3 separate regions of the Homo sapiens genome follow, and all the other regions are reported to be linked to region 1. The links are microRNA targets in miRTarBase. Many come from high-throughput screens and were not tested one by one. Region 1 holds a microRNA gene; each other region holds the end of a gene's coding sequence.

Evidence for each region. Region 1 holds the annotated microRNA hsa-miR-486-3p (CGGGGCAGCUCAGUACAGGAU, at 2,338-2,358, shown strand). A microRNA usually pairs through its seed, bases 2 to 8, with sites in the 3' UTR of a target mRNA and lowers its output. Matches are read on the target gene's strand: a 7mer-m8 pairs with bases 2 to 8, a 7mer-A1 pairs with bases 2 to 7 and ends in A, and an 8mer does both.
Region 2: miRTarBase lists B4GALNT4 as a target of hsa-miR-486-3p. Seed matches in the 3' UTR shown: 7mer-m8 at 4,360-4,366.
Region 3: the mRNA of NID1 is a reported target of hsa-miR-486-3p. Seed matches in the 3' UTR shown: 8mer at 2,594-2,601.

The regions. Positions count from the first base shown.
Region 1 is chr8:41,658,149-41,663,148 of GRCh38, forward strand. MIR486-2 (microRNA 486-2) reads left to right here and starts at 2,296; the gene lies at 2,296-2,359. ANK1 (ankyrin 1) reads right to left here. Exons shown (of 43, transcript NM_000037.4): 41 at 3,728-3,793; 42 at 3,282-3,416. The coding sequence ends at 3,318. It overlaps MIR486-1 (microRNA 486-1), which reads right to left and starts at 2,360; the gene lies at 2,293-2,360.
Region 2 is chr11:381,280-386,279 of GRCh38, reverse strand. B4GALNT4 (beta-1,4-N-acetyl-galactosaminyltransferase 4) reads right to left here. Exons shown (of 20, transcript NM_178537.5): 20 at 4,163-4,611. The coding sequence ends at 4,488. Among named protein-coding and RNA genes, the nearest start is that of PKP3, 10 kb to the left of the region's middle.
Region 3 is chr1:235,973,857-235,978,856 of GRCh38, reverse strand. NID1 (nidogen 1) reads left to right here. Exons shown (of 20, transcript NM_002508.3): 20 at 869-3,027. The coding sequence ends at 990. Among named protein-coding and RNA genes, the nearest start is that of LINC02768, 3.8 kb to the right of the region's middle.

The sequences.
Region 1 (5,000 bases):
CATGAGTCACTATGCCCGGCCCTAGACAGCCCTTTCACAAACATAAACTCAGCAACCATCATAACCATCCTACAAGGGAAATGCTGGCATTATTGCTAGTTTATGGCTAAGGAACCTGAGGCTTAGGGAAGTCATTTGACTTGCTCCGAGTCACACTACAAACAAGACCTGCAATTGTTTGAGTCCCAGAGCATATATGTTCTTATTTACTCTCTTCACATCAGTGCTCACAGTTACCATTATTATTTCTAAACCTTTTTCTTGAAGTGTAGCACATTCGAAAGGGACATTTTCATCCTCCCTTGAGGAGACTGAAGCTTAGGGCGGTTAAATGACTTAAGGCCATACAACCTGGAAGCAGGAGGAGGCCTTGATTCTAGACTCACAAGCTCCAGCTTTCACTCTCTGAAACAAATACAGCCATTTGCCATAGCTCTGTTCTATAAATTAGTCGCTGTTTGAGGCTGTGCACAGTGGCTCATGCCTGTAATCCCAGCACTTTGGGAGGCTGAGGAGGGCGGGTTGCTTGAGGTGAGGAGCTCGAGACGAGCCTGACCAACATGGTGAAACCCCGTCTCTACTAAAAATACAAAAATTAGCCAAGGGTGGTGGCACATGCCTGTAATCCCAGCTACTCAGGAGGCTGAGGCAGGAAGATCACTTGAACCCGGGAGATGGAGGTTGCAGTGAGCCGAGATAGTGCCACTGCACTCCAGCCTGGGCGACAGAGCGAGACTCCCTCTCAAAATATAAATAAATAAATAAATAAATAAATAAATAAATAAATAGTCGCTGTGAACACGGAATTAGCAAATACTGAACCACTGCTCCTAAGGGAAATACAAGGTTAGGCTCCCATGAGCCTCTGGCCACAATATTTTGGTCAACTGATGAATACATAACTTTGTGTTAAATGCGTTTCTGTTTCAAGACGCCTTATGTAATATATAGGGTTGACTCATTAACACTGACTTCACCACCACAAGCACTCTAACTCATCCCTGAGCAGAGCTTATCTGATGTCCATTCCCTCCTTAAGGAACATCCCAGCCTTCTTGCACTTCGCACCAGACAGCACTTCAGCACTGCCCTCAGGGGCCATTCTAAACAATGAAACCAAAAATGTGAAAAATGTGGCACTACACAAGCTGCAAGGAGGACACTTATTTATAGTATGAGGCACAGAGGCAGAGTGTGGCATTGTTCATCCTCAGCTGGGATTGCACGGGTTGGGCGACTCAAACTTTCTGCCCTTGTGTGTGTGTCCATGAATGAGCCAAAGCACGGTGAGTGCCAGCTTTGGGGCTACAGATAAATGTTAGCGAGTGGACGAATTCGCAAATGCAGAATCCGTGAATGATGAGGATCGACTGTACATGCTTGTCGGGGATGCGGATAGTAAATTAGGAAGCCTTTGGGCCCTCAACCGTCTTCTCTGTAGCCTTTGCCCTGGTTGGGAGGGTAGGGCATTTAATGCTGTCCCCTAACCCTCTGGGACTTTGGCAGGAGCTTTTCTCCGCCTCTCCCTCACCACTGCTCTCGCCCCACCGCCCCACCCCCCTGCCACCCTCACACTTGTCCCTGTGCCTGTCACTGACAGAGGGCCAAGTGCTGTCCCAGAGCCAGGCTGCTCCGTGTTTCTGACACCCATGCTAGTGTGGTCCGGTCCTTAATCACCTGAGGTTGGGGGGCTTCAGCCACATTGCAGATCACTTACGGCAAATTAAAATGAAATTCAAGGCTCCCTCCTTCCCCCTAGCCTGGCTTTCGGGCTGCCTCTCTCCCACTCAGGAGCATCCATAGAGCCTGAGCCAAAGAGAAATTTAAAGCCACAGCCGCCACTGCTACCATAAGAAAAATAAGTCAGAAAAGTGTACTTTTCCTTTCCCTTTGCTGCTTTTAAACATTATTTGCATCTTTGGGTTCTTTCCAGGACCCAACAGCAGCTACTCAGAGTCTTCTAAACCAGCAGCCTAGTGGGACCCCTGGCAGTGCAGGGGTTAACACGGTGACCTCCTTAAGCTGCTGAGGTGTCAGGTCTAATTTTATCCTATAACTGGATCTGCCAGTCCTCTTTTTTGCCCAAGTGCTGAGATATATTGGGAAGCCCAGAGTCAGCACTTTTGGTGGCTCAGGAGGCAGCGGGCCCTGATTTTTGCCGAATGCAGAAAGCTAGAGCCTCCTTGCTGCTCGGTCCCAGAGTCAGGCCCTGGGGTGTGAATGGTAACGGCCTGGTTAGTGCTGCACTGGGGCCACCATGCCCCCTCACCTCCTGCTGACTCCCACCCCGAGGTATCCTGTACTGAGCTGCCCCGAGCTGGGCAGCATGAAGGGCCTCGGGGCAGCTCAGTACAGGATGCCCCAGGGAGGATGGAGATCAGAGCCGGCCGCTGAAGCCCCCAGCACCACACACACCTGCTGGAGATGGTCGCACAGCGTCTTCATGTCCCTTCCTCATGGCACGGCACGGCACGGCATGCCCCTGCTCTGTGGCCACACTGCCCCATGCTCACACACATGCACCACAGCCCAGGCCCCGGCCCCAACCCTGACGGTCTCCTGACTTGCAGAAAGCACGTCGTCCACCCCTTAGGCCTGTCGGCTCAGCCCTTTCCTAGAAAGCAAGGGAGCAACGTGTTTCACAAAACACCAAAGAGAAGCTAAGCCTTGGCCTGGTGAGAACTGTAGCTGGGCTCCAGGTTCAAGAGACAGTCCAGTCCTCAGTCTTGGAGCTCTTATGTTGAAGCATCACAGCCCAGACCAACTCTCCTGTCCTCTTCAATGCCCTGTCCACTGCTTTCTAGATCCCCATTGCTTGGTTTCCAAGATAATATTACCACTTAGATTTACAGAGTGCTTTTACTTTTCAAAGAGCATTTTTTTCTTTCTGGCTTTTTTTTTTCTTTTTTTTGTGATGGGGTCTTGCTCTGTTGCCCAGGCTGGTCTTGAACTCCTGGCCTAAAGCAATCCTTTTGCCTCGACCTCACAAAATGCTGGGATTACAGACATGAGCCACTGTGCCCGGCCCAAAAGGCATTCTTACAAAACCGTGCGGTCCCTGATAAGTGGATATTATTAACTCTGTTTCCTTGATGAGGAAGCTGGGGTTCAGAGCCAACTGTTAGCAGGGTTGGGAAGTGAGAATCTCTGCCTCGAGACACAACAACAAGTTGTTTGTCCCACATCATGCTGGGGTGGCTGGGAGGGGATAGGGTGAGACAGGGAGCAGCCACTCCACTGAAGACCAGGCCATGCAGAGGGGATGAGAAGGGCAGCGTTACCTCCCGAGAGGCTACTCCAAGGAGAGCGGCTCGGGGTCACTGTTTCCCCCTTTTCAGGCTGGCCCGCTTCACTATCTGCGCCCCCTTCCTGCCCTCTATCAGGTCCGGCTGTAGGCCACTCCCTCTCAGCTCCACCTGCAGACAGCAGCAGAGACAGAAAGCAGGACAGATCGCAAAGACGGGCAGAACACAGGCAGAAGATCGAAAGGAGGCCACACGGAGGTGGCAGACACACTGCCCACCAGGGAGAAGAGAGACTGGAGAGAGAGCTCATAAAGAGGTGAGTGGAGGGAGGTGTCATGCAGACGGCCCGGCAGAGCAAGGCAGCAGTGATGGCGCTGGGTCCCCCAGGGCCGCGGGCGCCTCAGTACCTTGGAGTGTTTCATAAAGTAATCAATATCGACCTCCAGCTCACTGGGATCCTCCAGGGGCCCCTCTACAGTCACCTCCTCGTGCTCCTGGGCGGCATCGGCGCTGGACAAGTCTATCTGTCGAACCACCTTGCGAATGATCTAGGAAAGGAAGGGAAGGAGGAAAGGGCTGGTCAGGCCGGGCTCGGGGGCTCATGTCTGTAATCTCAGCACTTTGGGAGGCTGACGTGCAGATCATCTGAGGTCAGGAGTTTGAGACCAGCCTGGCCAACATGGTGAAACCCTGTCTCTACTAAAAATACAAAAATTAGCCCGGTGTGGTGGCAGGTGCCTGTAATCCCAGCTACTCAGGAGGCTGTGGCAGGAGAATCACTTGAACCTGGTGGATGGAGGTTGCAGTGAGCTGAGATTGCATCACTGCACTCCAGCCTGGTTGACAGAGCAACACTCTGTGTCAAAAAAAAAAAGGCGGGGGGGCTGGTCAAGCCCTCAAGACAGAGCTTCAGAACAGCAGTTCCCAGGAATGAGCTCCGAGGGGGAGGTAGCTTTTGTCCTAGGAGCCCCTCCTTGAGAGGCCAAGAAGAGGGACAGCCTTTGCCCCATTGCTTAATGGAAAACCCTCTGCTAGACAGCCCTGAAGGGGCCTTGGCAGTGTCATTTCATGACCAAGGTGTGACTGGGTGTGACCTCCCCCTCGAGCCCACAGCCTTCTGTTTTGCTTTTTGATATGGATGGGAGTTTGTGCTCTTCCCCATTCTACTCCCATGAGCCTAAGGGCAGAGGGCATCTCTTTTTCACCCACCCATTCCCGTATTCACCTGTCCAAATCTTCAAACCCTTTACTCTGTATCTGCCGTGTGCTCTGAGTGGGAGGTGAAACATCAGTGAGACACTGTCCCTGCCTGCAAGCAGCTCACAGTGCAGGAGGCAAGACAGACGCACAAGGAGCCTTGCTCAAGGGTGATGAGAGCTGCGCCTAAGCAGAAGCACATTCGAGATCCTGCCTCAGCTCCTCCTCTATTTTACCCATAGCTAGCACCGTGCCCCACACTTGACAGGCAAGGTCATGTCTCTGAGTTAATATCTGCTACCAATCCAATGCATTTTCACTTCCTTTTAATTATTTAATTATTGTGATGGGGTCTCACTCTGTCACCCAGGCTGGAGTGCAGTGGCTCAATCATAGCTTATGCAGACTTGAACTGCTGGGTTTAAGTGATCCTTCTGCCTCAGCTTCCTGAGTAGCTGTGACTACAGGCATGCGCCACCATGCCTGGCTAATTTTGTGTGTGTGTGTGTCTCTCTCTCTCTCTCTGTGTGTGTGTGTGTGTGTGTGTGTGTATTTATT
Region 2 (5,000 bases), not on the chromosome of region 1:
GTCAGCCTGGCCCCCAGCCTTCAGGCCCACCCTGGCTTGAAGGTGGAGCCTCACCAGGGACCTGCCCATTCCCTCCCAGGAGCCTGTCTGCCTCCCACTGCCGCCCATGGTGCCCAGGCCGCTCGTGCCAAGGGGTGCCCACAGGCCAGCACTGAGCTGCCCCCAGCTCCATCTTGGCCTCCCTCCCACACTCATTGGTGCCCAAAGTCTGGAGGGGCTGAGGTGGCAGGGGACTGGCATCTCGGCACTGCTCTGAGGGTGCACACCCGGCTGGGCTGCAACAACACCCGGGCTTGGCCCCGACCCCACTCCAAGATCAGAGTGGGCGCCAGGAGCAGGGACACCCCCAAGCCTGTGGTGTTAGGGGGTCCTCCCTGGCCCCCAAGACCACCAGGAGGCCTGGGTCCACACAGCAGCAACCTGGCTGGCTGCAGCTGCCCCCGTGGTGCTCCCGCCCTGCCAACCCTGCACAAATAAACCCACTGCTCCCAGGGCTGGTTCCACGAGACCCGGCTGTGCCTTCAGCTGGGTGCTCACGGGCTCCCGGGACACGGCAGGAAGCGAGGTTGAGGTGGCTGTGGGGGTTCCAGGCCTGGGAGTGGGTCTTGCCCGGCTGTGGGGGTTCCAGGCCTGGGAGTGGGTCTTGCCCGGCTGTGGGGGTTCCAGGCCTGGGAGTGGGTCTTGCCCGGCTGTGGGGGTTCCAGGCCTGGGAGTGGGTCTTGCCCGGCTGTGGGGGTTCCAGGCCTGGGAGTGGGTCTTGCCCGGCTGTGGGGGTTCCAGGCCTGGGAGTGGGTCTTGCCCGGCTGTGGGGGTTCCAGGCCTGGGAGTGGGTCTTGCCCGGCTGTGGGGGTTCCAGGCCTGGGAGTGGGTCTTGCCCGGCTGTGGGGGTTCCAGGCCTGGGAGTGGGTCTTGCCCGGCTGTGGGGGTTCCAGGCCTGGGAGTGGGTCTTGCCCGGCTGTGGGGGTTCCAGGCCTGGGAGTGGGTCTTGCCCGGCTGTGGGGGTTCCAGGCCTGGGAGTGGGTCTTGCCCGGCTGTGGGGGTTCCAGGCCTGGGAGTGGGTCTTGCCCGGCTGTGGGGGTTCCAGGCCTGGGAGTGGGTCTTGCCCGGCTGTGGGGGTTCCAGGCCTGGGAGTGGGTCTTGCCCGGCTGTGGGGGTTCCAGGCCTGGGAGTGGGTCTTGCCCGGCTGTGGGGGTTCCAGGCCTGGGAGTGGGTCTTGCCCGGCTGTGGGGGTTCCAGGCCTGGGAGTGGGTCTTGCCCGGCTGTGGGGGTTCCAGGCCTGGGAGTGGGTCTTGCCCGGCTGTGGGGGTTCCAGGCCTGGGAGTGGGTCTTGCCCGGCTGTGGGGGTTCCAGGCCTGGGAGTGGGTCTTGCCCAGCTGTGTGAGGGTGGGGGTGGCACCGTCGGCAGCCTTGGGGACATGGGGCACTGGGGACCTGCTGCCGCCACTGCTGCTCCTGCAGTCATCCTGCTCCCCTGTCCGCCTCCTTGCAGCCTGGGGTGAAGACTTTCGGCCCTCACAGAGCCCGGGTCGGCATCCGGGGCAGAGGGAGGCGATGTCACCACAAGATCCCCCTGCAGTTCCAACACTCAGGGGCAGCCTGGGGCCGCCCCTCACCCGACTCGCAACCATGCTGGGAGACACCTCTGGGAGCGGACTGTGGGCCCCGGTTCCAGCTACTGGAAGCACCAGGCTCCGCAGGGGCAGCAGGAGCAGGTACTTCTGAGCCTACAGGGGGCCGGGTGGGGGCCTTCCTGGGCCCCCAAGAGCACAGGAATATTGAGGTGCACGCAAACGAACCCAGTGCCCAGGAGGGCCGAGCTCCTGCCTGCTCTGTGGAGTGGGAGGCCCTGCCATGCCTCTCCGCTGCGGCCAGCATCTTGGCAGTGTCCACTCTAGATGGGCCACCGCTGCCATCACTCCTGCCTCAGCCTCCCGAAGTGCTGAGATTACAGGTGTGAGCCACTATGCCCAGCCTTATCATTGATTTTTAAGAAATTTCCTCAAAGGCTGCCGCTGACCCCTGCCCTCCCCCGCCTGTGTCCTCGGCCGCCTTCACCTTCTCACGCTTGGTCTTTCTGAGCACCCTGCTTAGAAACGCAGTCACGCTCACATGGGCTGCTGCCTTCCCGGGCTTCCTTTCTCTCCACTGCCCTTGCCGCCAGCTGGTATACCAGATGTGTTATTGATGGCGTCGTCGTGCCCCGCTCCCCCCCGTATTAGAATGTAAGATCCTTGGGGGCAGCAGTTTTTGTCTGTTCCGTTCCCTGCCTTTTCCTCAGTGCGGGACATGTAGTGAGTGTGCAATGAATCATTGCTAAACGGATTAAATGATGGTGTGAATCGTCCAGATTACATGGAATTTTGACTTTTTTGTTTTCCAAGGTTAATTCTCTTTCTGATGTGCAGGCTTCCCCTGCCTGTGGTTTACATTTCTTCTATCCTTTTCTCATTTTCTTGGGTTAGCGTGGATCATTAAATCCAAGGCTAGTTCTTCTCTTGCTGCGAAACATCTGTGAGTGGGGACAAGTCCATCTGAACTAGATACACAGGGATCAGCGGGCAGGACAGCTGGTCAGCACATGGCTTCTGGGCATGTGTGTGGCCAGCCATGTCCCCTGCCCTGCGGGCACCTCTGTGGACCTGCACACCTGTGGACCAGCAGGACCTGTGAAGCCCACACCAGGCGACTGGATGCCGCTCTGGTCCACGGCAGGTCCCCCTGGTTCTTCCTTCGGCTCCACCGCCCAGCTGCCGTGAGTGCACGGTGAGCAGTGACCTCAGGACGTATCTGCAGAGGACAATTCTGGCTGCTGGGCCTAGGAGCTATTTTCCCACCCCGTGTGAACGAGGAGGTAGAAAGAAGAGTGACCGCTCAAGATGTGCCTGTCCTAGTCCCAGAACCTGTGACTGTTACCTTCATGGCAAAGGGGTTTTGCAGATGTGACTGAGTGAGGGACGTGATGGTTATCGTGGGTTTGCTGGGAGGGCCCAGTGTCATCGCAGGGGGCCTTATAAGAGAAGGCAGCAGGGTCAGAGTCACAGGAGGAGATGAGGGAGAGAGGGAGAGAGAGAGTGAGTGAGAGAGGGGAAGAGGCCAAGCTGCTGAAATCCAGGTGGCCTTGAGAAGCTGGAGAAGGCACGGACGCAGACTCACACCTAAGTCTCCCGAAGGAACCAGCCCTGCTGACACCTTAATTTTAGCATTTTTTTTTTCCGAGACAGGGCCTTGCTCTGTTTCCCAGGCTGGAGTGCAGTGATGCAACCACAGCTCACTGCAGCCCTGACCTCCCGGGCTCAGGTGATCCTCCTGCCTCAACCTTCCAAGTAGTTGGGACTACAGGTACACACCACCGTGTCTAGGGATCCGGACGCTTCAGCCTCCCAAAGTACTGGGATTACAGGCGTGAGCCACTGTGCCGGGCTTAGTTCTAGGACTTTTTATCTCCAGAACTGTAAGATAATAATTTTTTTAAGCCACTACATTTGTGCCAATTTGCTACGGCAGCCACAGGGAACTCACACACTCACTCGCTGCCTGGCAGAGTACAGCCTCCCTCCTGTGACCTGGCCCAGGCCAGGACTGAGCTGGACCCACAGGCAGAGAGGAGACAAGGCAGGAGTGGGCTTCGACCAGCCTCTGAGTCTGTCCTTCTCTGGTGTCCTGCTGACCCTGACCTGGAGGGTTCCAAAGTCATACAGGCCCCCTGATTACGGCTTCACTGGCTTGAGTTGGGTTTCTGTTTCTGGCAACCCTGAGTTCTGCCTGATCACCCCCAACCCCAGCACACGACATGCCCCACCTGGGTGCAGCAGCTCCTCCACCCTAGAGGAGGCTGGGGTGGGAATGACACCCCGATTCTGTTTGCAGAATGAGGGGAACTGAGGTGGTGACTGCTCATTCCTCGCCTCAGTGTGGGAGGGCCCTGTGCTATCTATGTCTGTTATCAGCGGGCACAGACCCCATAGACACAGGGCGGAGGAAGTCGGAAGCCCCCTCCCCACAGGGCCCGGCACAGAACCTCACAGGCAGGAAGGGGAAAGTGGTCTTGGGGGTAGGAGAAGGAGAGGTCCGGAAGGGCTGCGGCTGGGAGTCAGGAGGTCGTGCTCAGGGTCCCCCAGGGGAGAGGACTCTACCTCTCAAGAGAACAGGCACAGAGGACTAGTCAGAACTAAAAAAAATATTTCATTTCATTCTGAATAAAAAACAGAACAGACAGAACTCTTGGAAATTCTGAAAACAATGTCATCGCTACAGCAAAATTTCACAGAAATCATCGCAGAGTGGGGACCAAGGCCAGGCCCTGACCCGCCGTGAAGGCTGCCTCTCCGGGGAGGGGCACGACGCCCAGTGGGCCAGAGAGGGGCAGGCACAGGCGGTGGCTGTGCCCCTCTGACCAGCCCTGCCGGGTCTCTCGGGACCGAGCTCAAAGCCCAGCCCCCAGCAGCTGCCTCGGGACTCCCACCGGGGCTGGGAGGGGCTGCCCGTCCTCAAGACGCCCCCGTGCGAGAGCCCTTCCTGCTGCGGACGCTCCACATGCCCCTCTTGGAGTGGTAGTGGTGATAGAAATTCCGCAGTCGGAGCCGCTCCACCTCCAGCCCTGCCTGCAGGACCCTGGGGCCGGGGGCAGAGAGGTGGTCAGGACCCCGGGGTTGGGGACGGAGAGGTGGTCAGGACCCCGGGGCCGGGGGCGGAGAGGTGGTCAGGAACCCGGGGCCGGGGGCGGAGAGGTGGTCAGGACCCCGGGGCCGGGGGCGGAGAGGTGGTCAGGAACCCGGGGCCGGGGGCGGAGAGGTGGTCAGGACCCCGGGGCCGGGGGCGGAGAGGTGGTCAGGAACCCGGGGCCGGGGGCGGAGAGGTGGTCAGGACCCCGGGGCCGGGGGCGGAGAGGTGGTCAGGAACCCGGGGCCGGGGGCGGAGAGGTGGTCAGGACCCCGGGGCCGGGGGCGGAGAGGTGGTCAGGACCCCGGGGCCGGGGGCGGAGAGGTGGTCAGTACCCTGGT
Region 3 (5,000 bases), not on the chromosome of region 1:
TTCATTAGCAGGTGAACCAGTTAAATAAACAGAAAATATTAGGTCATGAAGTTGTCAGGATGAGGAAAAGCATTGAGTTTTGGGCTGGATATAAAAGCATAGGGTCTTCAGGTTCCAAATAGTCAGGTTAGGATATTACAATGTTAGGATCTCTGCTCCTTTAAAAGTCCATCCATCTGGCCTAACAGCAATAACAATAATTAATAATAAGAATTGAAAACATATGTGTGGCACTTACTGTGAGCTATGAACTTTACATATATCAACTCACTTAGAGTTCTAAATACTTTGTATTTGTTAGTTCATGTAATCCTCATAGCAACCCTGTGAGGTAGGTACTATTATTATGTTCATTTCATAAATAAGCAAACTGAAGCAACTTGCTCCAAGTCACACAGCTCACAGGGGCAAGTCCAGGCAGCCTGGCCCTGGAGTCTATGCTATGCTGCCTCTTGAAGGCCTCTCCCCTCACCCACTTTCCTTCTCAGCTTCCCTCATCTTCTTCTGTCAGTGTGAAGCTAGGAGTGCAAGCTACATAAAAAGAACTTTGCACTTTAAAATTCCAATTCTATGTTATAATCAGAGCTGGAGAACTTCCCCCTGAGATCTGTTTAATAGCCTTAGTAGAAAATCTGCATAACCCCCAAGTTGGGAATCAGTGTTTGTGTCTGGTTTAATGCTGATAAAACAAACAATGGATCAGCTCAGCTGACTGCCTAGCACAGTGTCCCCATTCTCCTGAAGCCTTCCTAGCATGGCTTCAAGGAAACTAAAAGGGGGATCACACACAAGAAGGAGCCCACTATCTTAAATGGCTATGGAGTCAGATCAGAGAGAGGGCTATTGAACTGATTTCTGCCTTTTCCAGGCCATAACTACTGCTCAGTGAACAATGGCGGCTGCACCCACCTATGCTTGGCCACCCCAGGGAGCAGGACCTGCCGTTGCCCTGACAACACCTTGGGAGTTGACTGTATCGAACAGAAATGAAGACAAGAGTGCCTTATTTCCTTTCCAAGTATTTCACAGCAACACTCTACTTGAAGCAACTTGGTCCAGATTGAAAAGTGTCCTCTGGCTGAGTGGCCACTAGGCCCAGACCCAGCCCAGCCTGAGCCCCAACAACTTTTCCCTCACTGTTCCCCAAAACATGCACCCTGGACTTCTCTAATAGAAAAGTCTCCACCCCTACACAAGGACAGAACCCTCCACCCCTACCCCCAACCCTCAGACAGACTTATACACCCCTGAGTGAGGATTACATGCCCATCCCAGTGTCCTAGGACCTTTTCCCAATACTAGCCCCCCAGTGGTGAACAGAACCTCCCAAATTTGAGTTGCACCCTTCCCTGTGGCCTTATGAGCTCAGCCTCGCTTTGAGGTACCCACCGTCCTGTCAGCTCCTTGACCTATGAGCCGGGGCCTGACTAGGAAAAGTTGGGAGTTAAGGAGGAAATTAGCATTCCTTAATGTTTTGTTTTGGTGCTCTGAATTTCTTCTTTATTATAGTCCTATAGTTTTACTCCTCAGTTCCTCACCATCATCATCTTGTCTAAGACCCCCATTATAATATTCATGCGCTGCTTTTTCATCAAAACCTACCCTGTCCTAGAGATCTATGGGCATTTGGTGGATGATAATGAGCAGCCCCTCCCAGATAGAATGTCAATATTTGAGCAGTAGGATATTGGCATTTGTTAGTTAAAGGCTTAAATCAAAAGAATGTCCAATGGTAGGAATTTCAAGGTGTAGGTCAGATATTTGAGAATAGGGGATTTTTTTGATGTGCCTTAAATTATACCAAAGATTACTAATTATTCCTCTTTGCCCAAAATACTTGCATCCAAGGTTCTAGTCTCTGTTGCTGTGCTGGTCTTTAGCCCCACTGCTTGCACTGATGTCCCTCCTTTTCACGGAGACCTATCTGAGGTACAGGATGGGGCTGGCACCAGATGATGTCCCACCACAGTCCCTCACCTCCGGCCTCCACATGACAGAACCAATTTACACTCAACCATGACCTCACCCCTCCTTGGTTTCTCCCTCGATCTGTGGCCCTTTTTGGATGTATTCTTATCTAACAACACAATCCGGAAAGACTGAATTGAATATTTATACTAATGGTTCATATCCTTTATTGCTCAATGATCTAATTAAAGGGATCATTGCCACATTTCATGTTTATATTTCTACAATTTGTTTAGAAAACATCTCCTGACCATATCAGTAGCTCGTGTTATCTTTTTATCAACTGCTTCCCAGAGTCCTAAAACAATAGAAATTTTGGATTGAAAAGTTCAGCATAAGGAGTTTGAGTCAGTAAAGGATGGGATAAAGGAGTCGAGATGATTCAATGAAAAGTATCACAAAAAAGAGATTGATCAACAAGAGAAATAAAAAAGCCCAAGAGGAAGTGGTAGGGGAAGGAATTTAAGAACAGCAATAAGTAAAACTCTTAAGTAACTCCAAAAAGAAAATGGTACATTTTGCCAAAGACCACTTATACTTGAGAACATGGAAGAATTTGCCTGATACTCTCTTTGGGGAAAAGAGTCTCTCCTCTTTTCCTCAAACCCCAGTACACTCAGCCTCTCTGCCCCACCTTCTCCTGACTTTGTCCTCACTTGCTTCTGCAGTACATTGGAACCTGAATTGAAAGAAAGTCTTCCTTGAATAATTGGAGTTTGTCTTGAGAGGCAAATATAGCCCCAAGAATCACAAGATTCGAGGACCATGTAGGTCTTTTACGTAGCCCAAATCCATAAATTAGTCTCACTTTTTGTATTTATCGTTTCATATTAAACCCTCTATATCAAATGTTCATCATGATTTTGTATGATTTTTATAACTATTTTATTCATTTTATTAGATTTATTCTAAAATTTTTTAATGGTAAATTCTTAAACTGTGGAAACCACTGAAGGTGCTTATTAACTGTTCTCCCAGATTTGTACAAGTATTGGATGATTCCTTGAGTTTACAGCTGTACAAATAGTGTGGAAAATAAACTTTTTTTAAAAAAGAAAATCTTCCTCTATCTTTTCTGAATGAAGAGATTTAATGTTGGGAGGCTGATTCATGATAGACAGACAGACAGCCACTTAATAATCTGCAAAACCTGTGGAGCCCAGAAACTCTTATCCCAGTATTATGAGAGCTAGTATGTTTCTCAACCACAAAAAACCTTAGGGGTTGTAATTTACCTAAAAATGAGTGCAGTGTCTCACACCTGTAATCCCAACACTTTAGGAGGCCAAGGTGGGTGGATCACTTGAGGCCAGGAGTTTGAGACCAGTTTGGGCAATACAGGGAGACTCCATCTCTGCAAAACATCAAAAAAAAAAATTAGCTGGGCATGGTGGCACACACCTGTAGTCCCAACTACTCAGGAGGCTGAGGTGGGAGGATTGTTTGAATCCGGGAGGCCAAGGCTGCAGTGAGCTATGATCGTGCCACTGCACTCCAACCTGGGCAACAGAGTGAGACCCTATCTCAAAAACTTAAAAAAAAAATAAAAAATAAATTATATTATAGATTTCAAGCCACCCTTTTGGATATTGTTTTCATTGAGAAAATATATTCTACAAGCAGGCAATAGAAAAAGTTTTCTGATTCAGCTCTGGAGATAAGCTATGTTTTAATTCTCTTTTTACCTCCAGAAGGAAGAAAGATGCTTTCCTGGCACTGGCTATGGAGTGAGACCCCTGGTCTGTTCTAAGCTGCCACCAACAGGCAGTGCCACTCATGCTGGCCCCTGGGTGGGATGAGAATGGCCTCTGAGTTGAACAGAGTGAAGGGGGCTCAGAAGTTGCAGGAATGAGGTGTCCAGAGCTCAGTTGTTGCAGAGAAGGGAATTGGCACCATCAGTGGAGCCAGTATACAGCCTGCCAGTGTGAATTTCTTGAAAGAGACAACTTACATATGTTAGGGCTAAAACTTCCAGTGTTTTATGCTGGCCATAAAATCTGGTTACTCAAAGACGATATCAAGCTCCATGGTGGAGATAAGAAGCTCCTGGAATCTATCCCTCCATTAAAACAATTGAACTGGCAAGAGCTGTCTGATGCAACTATTTTGGAATTCAGGATCTTAGGGAACACTTGCAGCACCCAGGAGAAAGCTTGATGAGGAGGCTGGCAAGTTTTGGTCAATTTCAGCTCTTTACTTAGTGGTGACTACCACCCACCTTGATCAGCCCCAGGGCAGTCAGTTGTGGGGACAGCAGCTCAGGTACTTAGTGTGGCTTGCTGGAGCCAGGTTGGACAATAAAGACCCAGTTTTCCAAAAACCAAGGTTGTGGGTTCTGATTACTGATTGCTGCTTTTGATCCTTGAGGGGCTAGCATATAGGGAAAAATTTTCATGATACTGGGTTTGTCAAACATTTCTTGGACATATCAAAAGCACCAGCAACGAAAGAAAAAAACAGGTAAGCTGGACTTCATCAAAATTAACATTTTTGCATCAAAGGATACTATCAAGAGAGTAAAAAGACAACCCATGGAATGGGAGAAAATATTTGCAAACTCTATATGTGATAAGGAATTAATATTCAGAATATAACTACATTTCAACAACAAAAGCAAACAATTTAAAAATGAGTAAAGGATTTGAATAAACATTTATATGAAGAAGATATACAAATGGCCAATAAGCATATGAAAAGATGCTCAATATCATTAGTCATTAGGTAAATGCAAATAAAAACCACAATTTGACACCAGTTTACAGTATTAAGATGGCTTTTATCAAAACAAAACAAAACAAAACAAGTACTGGAGAGCATCTGGAAACGTTGTCCGTTGCTGATGGGAATGAAAACAGACAGCTTGGTGGTTCCTCAAAAAGTTGAATATAGAATTACTATATGATCCAGCAGTTCCACTCCTAGGACTATACCCAAAATAATAGAAAACAAGGGCTGGAACAGATGCTTCTGTGTTACTGTCCATTGCAATATCATTCACTGTAGCCAAAAGATGGAAACAACCCAAGTGTCCA